Regions from separate parts of the Homo sapiens genome. Here region 2 is linked to region 1. The links come from fine-mapping of genetic effects on gene expression. Tissue or cell type: whole blood. Region 1 holds a variant in brackets; the other region holds the start of a gene. All regions are shown on one strand. Distances are from middle to middle.

Region 1 (2,751 bases):
AGGGGCAGGGACGCAGCCACCCTCACGGCCCAGGAGTCACGCCTCACTTCATCAGCCCTCATGCCAAAACGCAGACCCTCCCTACCAGAGATGGGCCCGTCGGCAGATGGGAAGACTGAGGCCAGAGAGGGCTGAAGGAGCTGGAGGGCTGGAGGAACTGGTGGGCCAGAGAAGCTGAAGGGCTAGAGGAGCTGGTGGGCTGGAGGAGCTGGAGGGCCGGAGGAGCTGGAGGGCTGGAGGAACTGGTGGGCTGGAGGAGCTGGAGAGCTAGAGGAACTGGAGGGCTGGAGGAGCTGGAGGAACTGGTGGGCTGCAGGAGCTGGTGGGCCGGCCGGCCCAGCTCCACTTGCCCTGCCTGCCCCCAGCAGACACTGCCCTCCTCTTCGTCCCCAAAGCCCCCACCCGGCCCAGATCCTCTCCTGAGATCAGTATCATCCCACAGCCTTTTATAAAAAATCGTTTCCTTGATTATCGAGGGTAACAATGAAAACATGTAATTGAATCTCCAAGAAATTACCATTTTTATAACTTGCGCCCAGTTCCCGAGATAAATTAAACGCCTCCCCTGTATGGTGAGCCGCTCACTGCGCATCAGAGAGGGGCTGATACTGCCCTTTATCATCGATGCGGGACTTACTAAGAAGAATGCCTCACACTGCCTCCCGGGAGGCTCCTGGCACCTCCAGCTCACGGCCCTGAGTGGGCAGAGTTGGCCGGCTGGAGACGCCGGGTGGGTGGTCGGTTGGGCCCCCTCCTGATCACTCCTGGCCTAGCTGCTGGCTAGCTGGGTGGTGGTGTGGGTGGTGGGTGGGAGGACTGGTCAGGGTCTTAGTCCAGGCTCCCAGGAAAATCAGGCCTGCGTGCTGGCCAGGCAGCAACAGCTTTCTGAGCAGTGCAACCCTGGAGCCAGAGTAGGAAAAAGGCAGGGAAGCCGGGCAGGAGGAAGGAAGCGGAGATGGCAGAGAGGGAGGATTTACCCACCTGCCCCCCACCTGCTGGCCAAAGCTGATCCCACCCAACTGCGCCAGTGCCCAGAGGACCCATGACATTGCAAGGTCAGGCAGCAGAGCGGCTCTGGGGGAGGCAAGGCCCCGCTGAGGCGAAGCACCTCCTGGCACAGGGTCCGGGAGCAGGTTGGGGCAGCAGGGTGGCCACACCCACCCAAGGAGCTGCTGGGTTGGTCAG[C/G]AGAGGGGCGGGGAGGTGGGGCCAGCTCCTGGGATGGGCTGTCCATCTGTGAGCGGCTGGTAGTGGGTTTCCTGCTGGCAGTTGCTAGCAGCTGGGTTCTCGTGGCTGTTTGGCTGGCTGGGGGCCGTTTGGGTTGTGGGGAAGCAGAAGGCTCCAGCCTGTGGATTCAGTTTCCTGAAAATGTCTGCAGGCTGCACTCAGCAGAGCCAACTTCAAGCAAAGGACCCAAGAGTGACACTATTCTCGTGCAAACCACCATCCACAGTAGCCGGTTGCCTGAGAGCCCAGAGCCACCCCCTGGGGAACATCCACAGATCAGAACCCTGGCAGTGGTGGTGGCACAGCGAGGAGGGGTGCTGTCAGGGGACAGAGGACCTACTCCCTGAGGATGGGAGAACTGAGGCCCAAAGAGCGGCCTCCCACTTGATCTAGGTGAACTCAGGGTCAAGGGTAACAGGCTGAGGTCACCCAGGAGCCTCAAAGGCTGGCTCTGAAGGTGAGACCTTCTTTTGGGGACGCAGGTGGCCTCGGGTATCCCCTGGCAGCCGGCACAGAGGACTAGAGTCAGGTGGGCCGGGAGGAACACAGTTCAGGAAGGGGCGGGTACCCACACCCACAACTGTGCTCCCACCTTCTCTCCCTCCCCCGCCTGGTCCCTGACTTCCCAGGGTCCCCTCCTCCCGCCACAAGGCCCTGCTGCCCAAGGGCCCACCTGGAGGCTCCAGCGGGGTTTGAAACCCCCACAGTTGGGCAGCAGCACGTAACTTCTCAGCTGTGCTGGGCAGAGGCAAGGGAGGCCCCAGCACCTCTCATCGCAACTCCAACCAACATGGCAATGCGGGGCTGCAGGGGCAGACTGCCTGAGGACAGGGCTGGGCTCAGACCCCAAAGCCCAGGGTTGAGAGAGCCTCTCCTCCACTTTGCAGCCATCCCAGGCCCATTCCTCAGAGCCTGAGGCACCAACTTCCACCTGCTCCCAGCCCCACTCCCACCCAAGCCCCAGATCCCTCATCCCACCAGGATACAGCCCAGCCCACAGCCTGGCTCTAAGAAGTAGGCTTGTCAAGCCTGAGGGCCTCCAAAAGGGCTCTGTCTCCAGGCCCCGGGGAGGGCAGAGGCCCCAGCCCAGGTCAGAAAGGGGCGGAGTGGACGCAGGGCCCCAGAAGGCCAGCACTGAGATCCCTCCCCTGCCATGTCCCCAGTAAACCTCTGGTGTGTCCCCTTGAGGCCCTCATGAGAAGAATAAGGCAAGCAGGGTGGAAATGGTTCGGTCACTCCAGAGCAGTAGCCGTACCCAGCCTCCTGGCCAGCCCTCCTCCCCAGACCAAGGCCCAGGTGGCATCTCCCAGGGCAGTGCCAGTGCCAGCCTCCCGCCCTCCCCTGCTGTGGGGGCCGAGGCAGCAGTTGGAGGTGGGGGCTCCACCTCCCCAGCCTCCATCATTCCCTCTCAGGTGACTCTCCATGTGGTTTGCCTCTTGGAGTCCCTGCAGGGGGACCCTACTGAACTTAAGCTGGCCTCCTGCACGCTGGGAACCCGGCCATCCCTCTGGTTCCTGGTTCTTCCTC
Region 2 (2,625 bases), 110 kb before region 1:
GTCAGGCCTCAGCCTCCCACTGGCTCTGTGAGCTTCGCCTGAGGTTCCCTATCTGTGCAATGGGTGATGACGTCTTGGTGTGGCTCTGGGAGGACCTGTTGAGCCACCTCAGGGGCTGAGCTGGTGGCACTCGGCAGCCAGCACCCTCTGGGGAGGTGGCAGTGTGTGCACAGCCCACCCCTTCAGGAGGCCAGGGGACAGAGTGGCTGGGGGTGTCTGGGCCCCACCTCACCTTCTGTGTGGCTGGGAATGGCATGCACTCCACAATGCCCTCATAAGCCTAGGCTGGGACAAGGGTGATAGGGATAAAGCAGGCCAAAGTGATGAGGGCCACAGAGCGGCAGCCAGAGGCATGTGGGCAGTGCAGCCTCCACACCAGGCAGAGGGCCCACCCAGCATGGCTCCACCCTGCGAAGCTGCCTGCCACTGGGATCAGATGGGAGCACCAGGGCTCTGGGAGGTCCTCACTTCCTCTGCACAAGGCAGGCAGGTCACCGGCCCTGCGCCCTGCTCATCTCCCTCAGGGCCACCTCCATGGCCAGGGGCAGGCAGAGGGCACAGGGGTGCCCAGTCACCAGGTCTCTCTGCTTCATATCAGTGGACCTGGGCTCTGAGGGGGGCCATCAAGGCATCAGGCTGGCCCACTCCGTCCTTGAGTCAGGGTCCTACAGACTGACACCAGGTGGGCCTGCAAGACCCTCATCTGCATGGTCCTCTCATGCAGGGTGGGCCTGGGGAGGACCCAGCCCGGCTGAGCTGACTCCCAGCACTTCTCCAGGTGCAGGGGCAGCCTGGCAGTTGTCTGAAGACCCCGGGATGCACTTAGGAGCTCATCGGTGAGGCCCGGTAGGTGCCCCGAGCAGAAGATTGAGAAGGGACACCTGCACCCCTGTGTGGTGTGTGCAGGGGCGTCACTGGATTCTCTGGCCCCATGCCTCACACCGCCCGTGGGGGGCTGGCTTGGTAGAGTGGGGGGATACTAAGCAGGTGACCTCGGAGAGCGTCTTCTGGGTTTGGAGCCCCCATTCCGCAGAAGGGAAGAGGTGGGGGACCCCTGCAGGGTTACGGGTAACATCAGGCCTAGGTCCCTTCTCTAGGATGGTGCAGAGAGGGCCACAAAGGCCCAGGAGGGCCCCCAGAACTCTCTTAAGCCCTGAGCCTGTTTCTTACTGAAAAATGGGGGCGATCGTGCTGCAGCAAGGGGCTTCTGTGCAGGGGGCGGGGGATTCATGGGTTTCGTGAGGCCAGGAAGGGAGTGGGTCAGGCAGAGGCCATTCCTAGGCCTCGGGACAAAGCCCTTGCCCGCTTGGGGACCGGGCCAGCCTAGGCCGCCACACCCTCGGGCCCGCGTCCCCGGCCGGCTCCGGCCCGGGCCGCCATCCCCTCCGCCGCCTGCAGGGGCCGCCGCCTCTTCAGGAATGCGCCGCCTTTGTCTGGGACCGCGCGGCGCCGGTGCACCGGGCGGGCTGAGCGCCTCCTGCGGCCCGGCCTGCGCGCCCCGGCCCGCCGCGCCGCCCACGCCCCAACCCCCGCGCCGCCGCCGCCCTCGCCCTGTGCGCCCTGCGCGCCCTGCGCACCCGCGGCCCGAGCCCAGCCAGAGCCGGGCGGAGCGGAGCGCGCCGAGCCTCGTCCCGCGGCCGGGCCGGGGCCGGGCCGTAGCGGCGGCGCCTGGATGCGGACCCGGCCGCGGGGAGACGGGCGCCCGCCCCGAAACGACTTTCAGTCCCCGACGCGCCCCGCCCAACCCCTACGATGAAGAGGGCGTCCGCTGGAGGTGAGTGTCCGCGCTGCACCCGAGCCCGGCCGGCGGCGGGGCGCGGAGGGGGGCGGCTCGCCCCCTCCCCGGAGCCGCAGGGCCCGTCCCGGGCTGCCGAGGCGAGGGAAGCGTAGCCGGGCGGCAGGGAAAGCCACCGCAGTGCCGCGCCAGGCTGGGGCCGCTGGCGCCCCGGCCCCGGGAGGGCGGAGCCGGAGGCGGCAGGAAAAGTTGCCGCTTCCCGGGAAAGTTGACGGCTTCGGCAGGGCCGAGGGTGGCGGTCCGAGGGTCCCCGATGCTGGGCCAAGTCGAGGGCGGGGGCCGTGGGCTGGAAGGGCGGGGCCCGGCCTCGGAGCGCCCCGGCCACCAAGGGGTTAACGAGCGGGTTTTTGCAGAAACGTGGGTACCGAGGGTGGGTGGGGGTGTCGGGCCGCCTCCACCCCAGCCTCACGGTCTGGGCTCAGAACCTCCCGTTTCTCCGAGGTCAGTCCACAGTGGGATGAATGGGGGCGTTGGCGGCAGTAGAGGGCGTGGGGGACAGGGTTGTCCCAGCGCTGCCTCCAGGGCGGGCGGTGAGAGGAGGCAGCAACGCCCGCCATCTGCAGCCCGAGGGACATTGAGAGGCTTGGCTGGGGGAATCAGGGGCGGTGGGGCAATCAGCAACCCCTCCCTAGCAGCCCTCGTGGGACTCCCCCGCCCCACCGGCTGTGAGGTCCCGCGGTGCGGGCAAGGGAGGGTGGGCTCCATGTGAGTTGGGCATGCCCCGCCTGGAGGGTGCTCCCCAGGTGCCCACCCAGGCTGCCCTGCTGATGTCCATGGTGCCGCAGGCTGCACACACGTTTCCTTGCACGTGCACTTGTCTACACGGACTG

What was found. PIP is the estimated chance that this variant, and not a neighbour inherited with it, causes the effect. A credible set is the group of variants that fine-mapping cannot tell apart.
Region 2: RTN4R starts here. The variant in region 1 is the best candidate, but not a certain one, in a credible set for the expression of RTN4R in whole blood (TOPMed, PIP 0.88).

Annotation. Positions count from the first base shown.
Region 1 is chr22:20,157,707-20,160,457 of GRCh38, reverse strand. No RefSeq gene overlaps it. Among named protein-coding and RNA genes, the nearest start is that of CCDC188, 8.0 kb to the right of the region's middle. The variant C/G (reference allele first, on the strand shown) is at 1,186.
Region 2 is chr22:20,267,220-20,269,844 of GRCh38, reverse strand. RTN4R (reticulon 4 receptor) reads left to right here and starts at 1,527. Exons shown (of 2, transcript NM_023004.6): 1 at 1,527-1,774. The coding sequence starts at 1,753. RefSeq lists silencers at 1,264-1,323, 1,374-1,533, 1,624-1,783 and an enhancer at 1,995-2,625.